2 separate regions of the Homo sapiens genome follow, and region 2 is linked to region 1. The links come from fine-mapping of genetic effects on gene expression. Tissue or cell type: whole blood. Region 1 holds a variant in brackets; the other region holds the start of a gene. All regions are shown on one strand. Distances are from middle to middle.

Evidence for each region. PIP is the estimated chance that this variant, and not a neighbour inherited with it, causes the effect.
Region 2: it holds the start of S100A11, and the variant in region 1 is fine-mapped to the expression of S100A11 in whole blood (TOPMed, PIP 0.94).

What each region holds. Positions count from the first base shown.
Region 1 is chr1:151,942,436-151,950,387 of GRCh38, reverse strand. The region is part of intron 1 of LOC124904421 (a long non-coding RNA gene); the gene reads left to right. It also overlaps the pseudogene KRT8P28. Among named protein-coding and RNA genes, the nearest start is that of THEM4, 37 kb to the right of the region's middle. RefSeq lists an enhancer at 4,179-4,714. The variant CG/G (reference allele first, on the strand shown) is at 4,456.
Region 2 is chr1:152,032,365-152,040,316 of GRCh38, reverse strand. S100A11 (S100 calcium binding protein A11) reads left to right here and starts at 3,313. Exons shown (of 3, transcript NM_005620.2): 1 at 3,313-3,404; 2 at 6,517-6,669; 3 at 7,494-7,811. The coding sequence starts at 3,402. The coding sequence ends at 7,655. RefSeq lists enhancers at 1,693-1,852, 4,950-5,244 and a silencer at 3,810-4,104.

The DNA of each region.
Region 1 (7,952 bases):
TGAGACTGATAAGCCAACAGAGATGGAGAATCAATCTGTCCTCATCAAGAAGGACGCGCATGAAGCTTAAGTGAACAAGGTAGAGCTGGAGTCTCGCTTGGGAGAGCTGACTGATGAGATCAGCCTCCTCAGGCAGCTGTATGAAGAGGAGACCTCCAGACTCGGACACATCTGTGGTCCTGTCTATGGCCAAAAGCCGCACACTGGATGTGGGCAGTGACATGGCCAAGTCCCCAAGTGGGAGGAGATAGCCAAAGCAGCTGGGCGAGGCTGAGAGGGCACCAGATCTAAGTGTGAGGGGTTGCAGACACTGGCTGGGAAACACAGGGATGCCCTGTGGTGCACAAAGATGCAGATCTCAGAGATGAACCCGAACATCATCTGGCTCCAGCTGATACTAAGGGCCTCAAAGGCCAGAGGGCTTCCCTGGGGTTCACCATCGGAGAGCCAAGCCGCTGGCTATAAAGGAGCCAACGCCACGCTGGCAGAGCTGGAGGCCACCCTGCAGTGGGACAAGCAGGGCATGACATAGCAGGTACGCGAGTGCCAGGAGCTGATGAACGCCAGGCTCCCCTGGACACTGAGTTCACCACCTACGGGAAGCTGCCGGAGGACAAGGACAGCAGCCTGGAGTCTGGGATGCAGAACATGAGTATCCATACAAAGACCACCAGTGGCTGCTCAGATGGGCTGAGCTCGGCCTACTGGGCCTCACAAGCTCTGGCCTCAATCACAGCCTGGGTTCCAGCTTTGACTCTGGCAAGAGCTCTGACTCCTTCAGCCGTACCAGCGCTTCCAAGGCCACGGTTTTGAAAAAGATCCAAACCAGCAATAACAAGCTGGTGTCCAGCCCTCTGCTGTCCTGCCCCAGTGAACGGCCATGGCAGCCCCTCCCAGCCTCCTGCTCCTGTGGCTGCCCCAGAGCCTGCAGGGGAGGCCGCTGTGTAGGGAAGCAAGGGGAACAAGAGACCCACCTGAGGCTCAGCCCTAGCCTCCCCTGGGGTACCTCCTCTTGCCCATACCCCCAACTAAAAAACAATTCAATTGTTTTTTTTCCAAAATAAAGCAACAGCTAGCTCTGAAAAAAAGAAGAAGAAGAAGAAAGAAGAAAAAGGAAGAAGAAAAAAAAGAGGAGGAGGAGGAAGGGAGGAGGAGGAGGAGAAAAAGAAACAAGGAAAGAGAAAAGAAAATGAGGTCAGGCACAGTGAGTGGCTCACACCTATAACCTCTAATCCCAACACTTCAGTAGGCCAAGGCAGTAGGATTGCTTGTGGCCAACAGTTGGAGGCCAGCCTGAGCAACATAATTTTTCTACAAAAAAAATTTTTAAAAATTAGTCGGGTATGGTGGCACACCCTGCAGTCATAGCTATTCAGAAGGGCAAGCGGGAGGATCGCTTGAGCCCAGCAGTTCAAGGTTGCAGTGAGCTATGATCGTGCCATTGCACTCCAGTCTAGGTGACAGAGCAAGACCCTGTTTCAAAATAAATAAATTATATTATATCATATTTATTTGGGAATAGGCATTGCAATGGGAATACACATGCCATAGTAAACGTGCATATTCAGGGAGGTAAAGGAAGATAAAGATTTTTAAAGGATAAAAGAGGGGGGATTACACAATTGTTTTGAATCAATTATCCTTGGCTACAAGGATCAACAACACTAGTGGCACCAGTCCCAAGTTGGACAGGCAGTGGCTGGCAGATGTCCTCACAAAAGTATTTTTTTGTGTAAGTTTGTGATGGCCTTTTTAAAAGATTGTGGGTTTTGCAGATTCTTTTCTAATAGTTCTCATTATCAGTCATTTGTGCATAAGAACCTTCCCCAGCTCCATTTGTGAGAATTTTTAACACAAGTGATTCAATTTTGATTTTTTTTTTTTTTTTTTTTGAGACAGAGTCTCACTCTGTAACCCAGGCTGGAGCGCAGTGGTGCGATCTCGGCTCACTGCAACCTCTGCCTCCCAGGTTCAAGCAATTCTCCTGCCTCAGCCTCCCGAGTTGCTGGGACTACAGGCAGGCGCCATCACGCCCGGCTAATTTTTTGTATTTTTAGTAGAGACAGGGTTTCACCATGCTAGCCAGGATGGTCTCGATCTCTTGACCTCGTGATCTGCCTGCCTCGGCCTCCCAAAGTGCTGGGATTACAGGTGTGAGCCACCACGCCCCGCCTCAAGTTTGATTCTTATAACTTTTACAATACCTTGAGGGACTAAAGTCCCTCCCCAAGCCCCACTCCCAAGGACTGACAGACCCTATATCTAGTCTCCCACTACCGCCCCTGCTGGCCTGAATCACCTTTGGCCTCCATGGACACCCTCCGTACTGTGCTCACCTGCAGCAATCTCTGCCTTTCCCATTGCAGCCCACCTCCCCTCCCCCGCCCGACTTGCTCCCCTGAAGGTCTGCTTCTAAAACTGGCCCCAGAGTGATGTGGGGCTGTTGGTGTCCTTGAAGGCAGCAATTGCACATAGAAAAAATTATTTGCAAAATTTTGATTTTTAAAATTAATATTTGCCTTATTAAAATTAAATTTCCGAAACCCAGGTTTGGCCGGGAGCAGTGGCTCACACCTGTAATCCCAGCACTCTGGGAGGCCGAGGCGGGTGGATCACGAGGTCAGGAGATCGAGACCATCCTGGCTAACACGCTGAAACCCCATCTCTACTAAAAAAATATAAAAATATACAAAAAATTAGCCGGGTGTGGTGGTGGGCACCTCTAGTCCCAGCTACTCGGGAGGCTGAGGCAGGAGAATGGCGTGAACCCGGGAGGCGGAGCTTGCAGTGAGCCGAGATCACGCCACTGCACTCCAGCCTGGGCGACAGGGTGAGACTCTGTCTCAAAAAACAAAAAAGAAACCCAGGTTTTTCATCTTTTTGTACCTTAAGTATAAATCTTCATATCCTAGTTTTTAATCAAGCAAAACTCAACAATCACTTTTAAAGGTTGCCTTTCATAATAATCAAATGCCCTTAAATATTATAAAACTGACGTTGAAGATTGAGTATACATATTTTTCTGATTAATCACAGCTTTCATTTGGCTCTTGAGTCACTATAATGTCACCATGCCAATTCATCAGATCCTTCACACCTTATAAAATTATGTTGTTAATTTCTGCGCTTGATTGTATGACTTGGGTTGACTGAAATCTCTATTCTTTTCACTTTTTCCTTCCTTGGCAGGCCCATAACTTGCAAGTTTTTGAATAGCCTCCTTTGGATTCCACATAGTTCTTCTGGTTTTGTTTGGCTCCACAAGTACTACCCTCTGTATTAATGACCCTCCATGATATGCTAATAGCACCCCACTTAAATGACTTGTCTTGTCCCCAGTTTCTGGCCCTCCCTTGGCCAGTCCTCACATCCTTACATGGACCAAGTTCCAGGGATGAGGCCCAATCTTTGTGCTGTTGATCTTTTCCCCTTTCCTGAATGCCCTCACCCTCTTCTCTACCCATACTTCAAAACTCATGTCAAATCCCACCTCCCTTGACCACCACAGCCCATGGTAATTTCTCCCTCCTCTACACACGTATCACCCATTTCTGGTACTATTCATTTAATATTACCATGTGCATCATATTATTGCAAGTTATTTTTTCCTATGTTTTTTTCTCTTCCTTCTCACCTAAGATTATAAGCTCTCAGTAGGAAAGAGCTGTGTTTTACTATGTTTAAACTCCTGATTATATCCTAGCATTGTGCCTTTCTCATGGCAACAGCTCAGTAAGACCTAGTTAAGTGATTGAGTGGTTGACATTTATTAGCATGTCATTTCCTAGAGGGTATGTCCACACTCTGCTCCTGCCCAATATGCTATGAGTAGTCAATGAGAATTGAGCAATATTAATCATAACTAACCACTTGAGGTGTATGACACACCTCAGGAGGCAACATGTAACCACTTCTCAGCATGCTTGAGGCAGGTTTACTGACTTCAACCAGCACGAAATTTCAGAGGAGTCATGTAAGGTATAGATCCTCCATCCTGAAATTACGTTGCCTATAGTTGTTCAAACACTTCCTGCTGAAAAGTTTAGGATAATGCTGAATAATATGTTTCAGATGCCTTACTTATGGACAATGAATATGTGCAAAGACACGGGATGGAAGAAAGTCACAAAAATCCTTTCACTAGCTTTAGTTGTGTCAACGCTTCACAGGAAAACAGAACTGATTTTATCAGAACTTAGTTGGAAGTTTTTTATATAAGCGGAAGAGCAAAAGGGAATCTACTGTATCGCTCCCTCTACCCAGAGGAAGGAAATAGAAAATGTCCACACAACAAATGGACCAAGTGTATAACAAAACCCTCAGCCCCAAGGTGTCTCTGATGTACTGCAGGAACCAAGGCAGTCTCCCAATTCAACTATTATTGGCCTGTCCCTTTTAATTGAAAGCAGTTGCCCTTTCCCCACCCATCCCTGAGTATGACTCATTAACTGCCCC[CG/G]GGCCAAGTGTTTTACAAAATACTCTGCATCACCATGGCAACAGCCCAGCATCTGCCCTCACGTAGGGTGTGGCTAGAGTAAGTACTACCGCTTTTTTGTTTGTTTGTTTCTGTTTGTTATAAATTGGAAACTTTAATCACAGGAAGAGGCTGTTTGGCACCCGAGAGCTGTCACATAGCAGTGCAAGAAGTAAAGAGAAAAAGGGGAGAGCCAAAATAACATAATTACTTCTTCACAGCTAGGATATGTCTCTACCAGATTACACTGAACTACCTGAGGATGACTGGAAACAGAGATAGTGGTAATTATTAAGGTCTTACTATGAGGCACTCTTAGTCTTCAATTATCATTATTCCTATTTTAAAGATGAAGAAACTGAGATACCCAGAGCTTAATGTTATGTGTCTGGTGAGTAACAGGGCCAGGATTCAAGCCATGCAGTCTTCTTCCAGGGACCCACACCCTTAACCATTATGTCTGATGACCTCGGGTTATAGGAAAGGAAGAGCCTCACAAGTTATTGATGGATTTTGTTCATTTGTTTGTTTCTGCTGACTATAGTTAAATTATATCAAGGCTTTAAAGACTAAAACAGGATGGATTTCTAATTTGACAGTTAACTGCTAAGGGAGCAAAAACTGAATTGTGTAGTGGAGACCTGGCTACCAAGATGGACATGTTCCAGTCACAGGCATAGAGAAAGTTCTCTGTTTGGTGCCCATCAACTTAAGTCCTTCCTTATACCTGGCAGTGTCACCATCTTTCACAGTCACAGATTCTGCCACTTTGGCCAGGCGTCTCATTAGTCCCACCCCTCATCACAAAAGAGTCTACTGGGGACAGGTCAGCACAAACCCACCAACGTGACCAGAAGCATAACTCACAGAACCTATCCTGCTGGCAGAGGGGAGCAAGGGCACCAAGGACAGCCTCATCCCCTGGAGAAATGTCCTCATTTGCCAGGATGCCTCATTGGCTGCTTGAATTGGTTGGACTCAGGAAGTCTATTAGCTCTGAGTCCAGAGCTGTTGTTTGAGACTCAAGATGAAAAAGGAGGCAATTTCTACATTTATCTAATGCACAGCTAAGAGTGGAGGTTGGGTGAACCTGATTTCAAAAGCAAACTGAGTATTAAATTTCACCACTTTTTAAAGCGCTGACGTGATGTAAGGATGCTGTCATTGTTGGCTAACAATTTTCTTAGGTCTAATTTGGGTCATTAAAGGTGACATGAAGCTCCTCTGGGCTCACAGCATTGTGCTGTAAGCACTGTAGCTATGCTGTGTCACAACGCAAAAGCATCGTGCCACAGTAAGCAAGTGTGATAGGTTTTGTCACCACATTAGGTCTGCCTTGGAGAGGTCAGCAAAACGTGCTTGCCAGAAATTCATCTTATCATCAGAGTACAACCTTCAGGCTGCCTGGATCTATGCCCCACCTCTGCCATTTACTAGCTGTGTGACTGGGCAGTTACTTTCCCTCTCTGTCCTTTGGTTTCCTTACTTGTAACAGGGACAGAAAAATATTTCCTACTTTTAGGGCTGCTGTGAGGATCAAAGAAGTTAATTCATGCCAACTGCTTGTAAGAGTTCCTGGCATGTTTTGCCACACACTTCAATCTTGGATTAAAGAACTTGCCATTCAGTTGAACTTACGGTATTTCTGCCTGAGCGCCCCTCAGCCTGCCCTCTGAAATAGGGTATGTAGGGAATATCAGTTTGCTTACTTACTGGGACACTGCTATATACAAAGCCATGTTTATCTAATTCTTCTCTATTTTGCTCATGTACAGTTTTTCTAAGTATTTACAAGCAAAGGGACCTCACCAGAATTTTGGAGGCTTAACAGGGCTAAGTCAAGCATGATTACTTTTAAAAATAATTCTGGGCCAGGCACAGTGGTTCATGCCTGTAATCTCAGCACTTCGGGAGGCTGAGGTGGGAGGATCACATAAGACCAGGAGTTCAAGACCAGCCTGGCCAACATAGCAAAACCCCACCTCTATAAAAATTTAGAAAATAAAAATAAAAAAGAAATTCTGATCACAGTTCCAACCAAGCACCTGTATCATGTTCAAAACAGGGAGTCAGATGGACTTCAGCAAAACAAACCATAAAGCCACATTATTTGCAATAAATTCACTAGTGCAGGGATGAATGATTCTGTGGAATGAGACCTAATTCCTGTTGATTTAATTCACAACTCCCTTCAGAGAGAGGGGTATAGGCAGCCATCAACCTCCTCATTGTCCCTTGGAAATTTCTAAAAAGGAAGGACGTAGGGTAATAGTCTGGGAAGAGATGTGGCACTTGGGCACTTGTCTTGCCCCTCATTTGCAATGGCAAAAAAACCACTATTTTACTTGGAATGAATATTTATTGGGGAGTGGGGTGTCTTTGTGGGAGTAAGGGGCTGAAGTCCCCCAAATTGCTACTTGGTTCTTGCCACTTTGCTCATTCCCTACTAAATGACAGAGTGTTTAGTTAAATCAAATATTTACCTTAATTATGTTTTAAGATTATTTTGAGAATTTCAAACATTCCTATTCTTCCCTTCCCCAAATAAGATCAACGAGGCATCCTTGGAGTATTTTAAAATTAGACTTTTCTAGATGTATTAGAAAAAGGAAAAGACAAACCATAGAAACGTTGTTTGACCAGAGCCATCTTCCTGATTCAAGGACTTCCTTTTGAGTATGTAACTGAATGCCCTGATATGACAGGCATGAAAACACATTCTTGTTCACTAGCTTGAAACATTTCTGATGAATGGGCCTAAATGTTTCCGGTGAATGGCTAAGATTACTGATGCTCTACTTCAGTTACAGGAGTTCTTAGATGATGTGGTTAGTAATGCTCAGTATTGGGTTCTTGCTTTTCTATCTCCTCCACATGAGAAGGACTTGACCCCTGCTGGCTCTTATCATTGCTATGTGCAGTTATTGGGTAAGATGTTCTGTGTGCCAGGCACCAGTCAGTTCAAATGCCTTTGAGCTGCTGATCACAAGTACTTAAAGAGAGAATGCCCTTGGAGGTAATCCCTACCCAGTTCCTATCTATTGTGGCCATATAGGAAAGAGGGCAGAGGATTTTTAGACCTTCCCACAGTTTCAAGAGAAGCCAAAAATTCAGGTTGTTATAAGAAATCTCCTGAATTTAAGGTAGGCAAATTACTAAAATGTTTTTAAAGAACTACATGGGCCGGGCGCAGTGGCTTGCGCTTGTAATCCCAGCACTTTGGGAGGCCGAGGCGGGAGAATCACGAAGTTAGGAGTTTGAGACCAGCCTGGCCAACACAGTGAAACCCCATCTCTATTAAAAATACAAAAATTAGCCGGGTGTGGTGGCATGCACCTGAAGTCCCAGCTACTCAGGAGGCTAAGGCGGGAGAATCACTTGAAACCAGGAGGTGGAGGTTGCAGTGATCCGAGACTGCGCCATTGCACTCCAGCCTGGGCGACAGAGTGAGACTCTGTCTCAAAATAAATAAATAAGA
Region 2 (7,952 bases), 90 kb before region 1:
TACCTTGAGCCATGGAAGTTCCTACATTTATTTCCTGATAAGCCCTTTTACCCATCTGTATATTATTTTTGTCTCTTGCTGTCAGTTTACCAGCTCTCACTCATCCTCAGCTCCTTGCTGGCTCCAGCCCTTCAGTTTGATTCATTGTTTGCCTGCTTTGACAAATCTACCTTGCCTGCTACCTTTCCTGAACTCTCCCTCCTTTGACTGATAACCTAGAAATGAACCCCTTTCAGCGTGACCCTGGGGAGCAGCTGTCAAGCAGGCAGCCCTAACTGGGTGGGGCTGATCCCCCAACCTGGCTCTGAACAAGTCATACTTATTTGGTTTAGCTTTTTCCTTTGGTTTCATTCAAGCTACTTCATGGGGCTGAAGAGTTATTGAAAGAATAAATGTCATAGAGAAAGTAAGAAAAACTAACAACTAGGTTTAGGAAGAACAAAAACGCTAATGAAGTCAGACTGCAGGCTCTTCACTCCCAGTGGTTCACCATTTTCACAATTCAGCGAACACCCAAGTAGCCTTTTCTTTAATTTACAGTTAGCAATTGGCTTACATTCCCCTCTGTCTATTTCTTCCAAATTTCATAGCTTCCACTTACTCATGATGTCTTCTCCATAAGTTTTATTTGCCATGACTTCATGGTTCTGTCTATGCAAATGTTCAGCTTCAGCTCTTCTAAATGCCTAATTTTCTATGTGCTTCTAATTTCAGTTTCCCAAAAACAAGAAGCTTTTTGGCCCTAGTTCATCTTTCCATGTTATGTCATGAAACATCCACTACCAGCCATCCTATAGATTGGCAGTGCTGGTGTCCAGACTAACTTCAACCCAGTCCACTCTAACAGGGTCACAGTGTGTCAAATCATGCAAAACTTGGCCACCTGGGCTGCCCCTTGAGCACAGGTTCTAAGTGAGGCATTTTCTCTTAAAAAGAACTATAGTGGCCGGGCGCAGTGGCTCTCACCTGTAATCCCAGCACTTTGGGAGGCTGAGGAGGGCAGATCACGAGGTCAGGAGTTCCAGACCAGCATAACCAACATGGTGAAACCCCGTCTCTACTAAAAATACACAAAAAATTAGCAGGGTGTGGTGGCGCACACCTGTAATTCCAGCTACTCAGGAGGCTGAGGCAGGAGAATCGCTTTAACCCGGGAGGCGGAGGTTGCAGTGAGCTGAGATCACCCCGTTGCACTCCAGCCGCCTAGGCAACAAGAGTGAAACAACGTCTCAAAAAAGAAAAAAAAGAAAAGAACTGTGGTGTGTAAGGCCTCATGATTGAGTTATGGAGTAATTTAGACAAATGATTCCTTAATATGTTGGGATCATAAATTTTTCTGAGAATCAGATGAAAGATGTGGACTCTTCGCCAGAAAAATTTCTCTTATGCAAAAAATTTACATGTAACTTTAAGGTATTAAGGAACCCCAGCAGCCGTTCATGTAACACCCCCCACCACCAAAGGTTTGAAGTCTATTACCTGGCACTTGATAAGAACTGTGAGTCAAAAAGGCATTTAGACTCAGTGGCTCCAATGCTTTCAAGCAGGGAAAATGGTAGAGTGATAGTACCCTTAGCAGAGAAGACAGAAACAGGTTTGGGGAAAACTAGTTATTCCTGAATTATTGAGTCTGAAGTGCAGGTGGGACTCTCAAGTGGATTCATAAACAAGTAACTGAAAATGTGGGTCTGGAGTAGCTGAGAACTGAGATGGAGATTTGTCTCACGTGCTCAGGGCACCTGTGAGAGCAGGTGCAGGGAAGCAGTTCACACAATGCCTATAGCCCATTATCTTTCATTTGCGTCTACTCTGCAGTTTTTGGAGACCTTTCTAAGCCCTCACTTTACTTGACAGTCCTAACAATCTTATGAAACAGGAAAGGCCTATCTCAAGACCTATTACAAATAAGGAAGTGGAAGCTCAAAGGAGTGACAAGTCTGGTCAAAAGTATTGCAATGAAGTAACAGACACAAGACTGGAACCCAAGTCTTCTGATTCTTAATACAACTCCTAATTTCATTGCAAACTGCACACAGATAAATGCCTTACTAGCACGGATCAATTTTTAAGTGCAGTAGTTTGGTTTTCGGATTTTGTCTTTGTGGCTGTCCTCAGTTTACAGAAAAGTTTGAGAGAGAGGGGTGGCAATTGTCCCTTGACAATAATCCCCAGTAATCCCGTGGCAATTGATTTGGCAATACTCACCACTGTTTACTGTTAAATATCTTCCCTGTGGAGCAATAGAGAGCCCCAACTCCTAGGAACTTGTCTACAATTCTGACCCGCACTCTGTCCTAACTAACACTCTTGGTTTTGTTTTTTGTTTGTTTGTTTTTGAGATGGAGTCTTGCTCTGTCGCCCAGGCTAGAGTGCAGTGGCGCGATCTCGGCTCACTGCAAGCTCTGCCTCCGGGGTTCACGCCATTCTCCTGCCTCAGCCTCCCGAGTAGCTGGAACTACAGGCGCCCGCCACCACGTCCGGCTAATTTTTTGTATTTTTAGTAGAGACGGGGTTTTGCCGCGTTAGCCAGGATGGTCCCGATCTCCTGACCTCGTGATCCACCCGCCTCGGCCTCCCAAAGTGCTGGGATTACAGGAGTGAGCCGCTGCGCCCGGCCTGTTTTTGTTTGTTTTTTGAGACATTGTTCCGCTCTTGTTGCCCAGGCGGCTGGAGTGCAACGGCGCGATCTCAGCTCGCTGCAAACTCCACCTCCCGGGTTCAATCGATATTTCTGCCTCAGCCTCCCAAGTAGTTGGTATTACAGGCGTGTGCCACCACGCCAGGCTAATTTTGTATTTTTAGTAGAGACAGGGGTTTCACCATGTTAGTCAGGCTGATCTCAAACTCCTGACCTCATGTGATCTACCCGCCTCGGCCTCCCAAAGTGCTGGGATTACAGGCCTGAGCCACCGCGCCCGGCCCACTGCTGTTTCCAAAAGAGACCTTTTTTGCCTATCTAACCTAAATGCCCAGAATGAGCTCATACATGGGAAAGACCCACGGACATGGACAGACTTCCCGAAGACTACTGTGCAAAACTTATAATTCTAAAAAGTCAAAAATCTTCAGGAATCACAGGACGGGGTGGAGGGGGCCGGGGGGAAAGAGGAGGGAAAAGAGGGAAAGGAGGGAGAGTGAGACTGCTTAAATCGCTGGAGAGGACGGTGGGTTTATTTGAGTCTTAAAGCTCAGTTCTGTGGTTAGCGCCGGCCGCGGTCCCAGGCCCAGCCCGGGAGGCGGGGAGGGGCGGGGCAGGCGCGGAAGCTGTCTGAGTAAGGCTTGGGCAAGGCTGGGCCGGGAAGGGCGTGGGTTGAGGAGAGGCTCCAGACCCGCACGCCGCGCGCACAGAGCTCTCAGCGCCGCTCCCAGCCACAGCCTCCCGCGCCTCGCTCAGCTCCAACATGGTAAGCCTCACTTTTCTTCTTCTTCTTCTTACATGAAAAGAAAAAGAAAAGAAAAAAAACCCACATACTTCCCAGCAGACTTTATCTTTGACTTATGTGTGGACGTGGCAGGAAACAGCAGGAAAAATCAGCCTCGTGGGAGGGAACTGGGGAAGAAGGGATGGAAGGATGAAGCCCTAAAATCATCCTTGGGGTGGCCGCCTAGGGTAGCAGCGGAGGTTCTTTAGCCTTCCCAGTCACGACAAGGCCCAGGGCTGGGGAAGAGGAAGTGCTGGCCGCTCACCGCGCGGGGGGGGGACCCGTCGTGGGTCACTGCCTCCAGCCCCTCGCCCGCGGTCTCCCGGGAGCCCAGAGACGCCTAGGAGCAAGTTTAAGGCAGGGGGCTGGAAAGCTGCGAGGGGTCACTAGTTATTTCTGTACACCAGAAAAGGGACATTTTAGAACTTGGTCGTCTAGCCCCAGGGAAAATCAAAGTTTCAGTAAGCACCCGGCAGACGGCCAAGACCCAACGGGACTGAAACTTTAGCCCGTCGCCGCCCGCAGCGCCGCGGCCAAGAATGTGGGAGGAACCCGGTCCCAGCTGAGCCCTCTCCTCCTTCCTCTTCCTTTTACCCCACCATCTATTTAGGCACTCACTCCGTAACTTATTTTTCTCTTCTTATCTCCTTTCATCTCCCAGTTGAACTCATATTTTCCATAATTCCACCTCCAAAATCTCTTTCTTTACCTCTCCTTAGTGGAGAGTCAGCAAACTGGCCCGCGGGCCAAGTCGGGTTTTCTGTTCTGCCCACAAGCTAAGAATAAAGTTTACATTTGTAAATGATTGAAAGAAATCAAAAGAAGAAAAATACTTTCTGACATGTGAAAATTATGTGGAAATCAAACTTCAGCGTCCATAAATGAAGTATTGGAACAGAGCCACGCCCATTCCCTTCCATACTGTCTGGGGTTGCAGTCCTGCTACAGCAGGGACAGAAAGCTCCGGAGGGTGTTGGTTAAGAATGAGAAGACAATAGTTGAGGTTTTTAAAATTGCTACGTCTTTTTCATCGTATTTTTTTCTTTCCTCAAATGTTGAGCGCTTAGCATGCATTTTTAAAAATTATTTCACAGTATCCGTTTATCATAATGTTTGCTCCTTGCTATCGCCATCCCCACCAAGTAAGACTCCAAGAGTGCCATGAGGTGTGGAGAGCGCCGGTTCTCCTCTCCTTCAGCCACTGCGCCACCCTGGGCAGAGCTTTCCGGTTTCTGGGCGTCCTCAGGACCCATCTCCAAAGTGCCCTGGAGCTCTACAAATTATGCCGTTCCATTTTAGTAATTTGATAATTGTGTCTCTTTCTTTCACTTTGGAGAATTACCTCTGGGAGGAAATGCAAAGAGGTTTTAATTTTCTCCTTGTGGCTGATAGCAACAGCAACAGTTTTCAAAAGAAAATAATCTCTAAATTACACCAAGACTGATGTTAAGGAGAGAAAAATGTGAAGCAGAAAGGCACTGTGAAACTGGAAAAGCAAAACTGTCTGCATTCTGGAAGGAAAAGGGGCAGGGGGAGAATCTGTAGTTCCAGAGAAAGGTGACAAAGCCCATGCTCCTCAGCCTGGTGTGGCCTCCCAGCCAGTCTCCTTCCTGTCATCTGATACCTTAGTAAGACAGGGAGATTTTAGGCCTGATATGAAGGGCATGTTGTAACAGAACAAACACATCTGTTTCTAGGCTGTGGTATTTTGTTTCTCCCCTAAAGGCCCCTGAACCTACCAACACTTTTCTTAATGAAAAGTTCAATTTAGAGCAAAACAAAAACAATCATCCTCCAACAATGTGATTCTTGGGAAAAAGTCCACCTCTCTTAGGGTTCAGGGGTTCTAACGCTGTAAGATGCAATGGGAGGCAAGACTCAGCTAGGATCTCTGCAGCATAAAGGCTGTACAGGAAGGAGGAATCAATCTGCAGCTGTGTAGCTAAGGGCTCAGATCAGTTCTTAGCACGTGTTAATTACGGAGTGAGAAAGCCTCTAGCTCTGGCCTCCAGGAAGTCCATCCTAAGAACAAACGAAAGGCTAAATGCTAAGTTGCAAATGTCACCATCCAAACATAAATCATTGTTAACGCTAGTAGGTAAAGTCTCAGAGGAAGGGTGTGGCCAGGCCGGTTTCCCAGAAAGTCTGTAATTGCGGCTTCTACCCACCAGAGGGAGGCCAACAGCTCCTCACTTTTGGGACCCTAAGTCCCCTTGGGGAACCGGATGACTGGGCCCTATAGAATTTCCTTGAAAAATTCTGCTGTGAGGAAAGAGCCCAGTACAGGATTTAAATCTCTTACATTGTAGATGCTGTGTAAGCAGCAACCTGAGAGCTTCCTGGTTTGGAGTGACCTCCAGAGAAGCTCCACCTTCTCTGTCACTATTTCCCACCAGGAAGTGGAAGCCTGCAAGGCTAAGGACTGCAGAAAGGGACTGGGAGGCCCAGATTCCAGGGCTGGCTCTGCCATATCCATTCCCTTCTCCTGTCCGTTTCCTCACATCTAAGATTAATGGTTCCTAACTCTTAAATATGAAAGCCATTTTCAAACATCTAAAAAGTTCTATCTCCCACTGCATACACAATGATAGCTATGCTTTTAGTTTTCTCTAAGGAAATGTGTGAGTCCCAGGAATTCGGTATTGCTTTAAAAAGAACTGACATTTCATTAATCACAAAAGCCTCCATACACTCTTGGAAAATAAGAAATTATTAACCTATAGACAATGTTTGGTGTGCATATGGATTTGTGGATATAGAGTTACACATGTATTTATCCACACATTTTAAAAATATGAGTAAACCTTGTCACCGTCACTCTCATCTAGGCAGTCTACTGCTTTTAAACGTGCCAGCAATGCTCCACATTTACCTTCCATATATTTCACCTGGAATAAACATGTGGCGAGGGGTAGGACGGAAGGTCACAGAGTGTGACTTTTTGTGGTTGTCTTGAACCCCTCAGCCCCTTGAAAAAATGACTCAGTCTTTTAGGAAACTGCTTTGACCTGAAATAAGAGTCCCTGGAGTTTTCTCCAGTATCCAGCCTTGACATCTTCCCTTGTCTGAGCCCTGCAATTTTTTTTCTCCAAAGGCAAAAATCTCCAGCCCTACAGAGACTGAGCGGTGCATCGAGTCCCTGATTGCTGTCTTCCAGAAGTATGCTGGAAAGGATGGTTATAACTACACTCTCTCCAAGACAGAGTTCCTAAGCTTCATGAATACAGAACTAGCTGCCTTCACAAAGGTACTGGTCCCTGTCTCCCCCACTTCCCCAAACTACCCACAACATGAAACAAGACCCTGGCAGAATGGCCAGGAATGAAGGAGCAGCAACTGACACCCCACACTCTTGCTTCATTTTAACTCACTCTAAGCCAGGAGTTTTTCCATTTAGGAAGAGAGATATATGAAATGGTATATGACGTAATGGAATTATTTTCAAATTTCATTATTCTACCCCAGAGGTTCTATGGCAGCCCTGTCCAGTAGAACTTTCTGCAGTGGTGGAAATACATTCTATATCTGCTCTATCCAACATGGTAGCCACCAGCCACATGTGTCTGCTGAGTGCTTGAAATGTGGCTAGTGTGACTAACAGACTGACTTTCTAAATTAGTTAATGTAAATGTAAATGTAAATAGCCATTTGTAACCAGTGGCTCTAAGTCTGTATCTGTGTTGGCAGCTTGGGCAAGTGGAGGATGAGACTGATTAGGCAGGGCCTGTGGCCTTTTTCCACCTGAACCCGCTGTACTTTTATATAGTTTATCTATTGGAGTTGCATGCAACACTTGAAAGAAGTGTTCCACTGGCTTTACAAAACTGAATAGCCCCTAATATCATAGAAAGAGCCCTGGACTAGGAGTGGGAAAACCTTTGGTTCAAGGCCCAGGTCTGCCCCTTAGGCAGGTCACTTCACCTCTTTTAGTCTGTTTCTGCATCTGGCAAATGGGAATATTAATAATCCCTATCCTGTACCTTATACTCCTGTGAGAATAAAATGTGGCAGCATATTTGAAAGCACATTAGAAGATGCGATATAAAGGTGTAATTATTATTTTCTCTGCAGAACCAGAAGGACCCTGGTGTCCTTGACCGCATGATGAAGAAACTGGACACCAACAGTGATGGTCAGCTAGATTTCTCAGAATTTCTTAATCTGATTGGTGGCCTAGCTATGGCTTGCCATGACTCCTTCCTCAAGGCTGTCCCTTCCCAGAAGCGGACCTGAGGACCCCTTGGCCCTGGCCTTCAAACCCACCCCCTTTCCTTCCAGCCTTTCTGTCATCATCTCCACAGCCCACCCATCCCCTGAGCACACTAACCACCTCATGCAGGCCCCACCTGCCAATAGTAATAAAGCAATGTCACTTTTTTAAAACATGAACTAGAGAGTTGGTGAATTTGTGCATGGGAGGGTGGAAAGTGGGAGGAATATAAATTAGATTGATAGAAGCTGCATAGTAAATAAGAAAAAATGCATCTTGGGTGTACACATAATCATGACTAATAGTACAACCAGATTCAT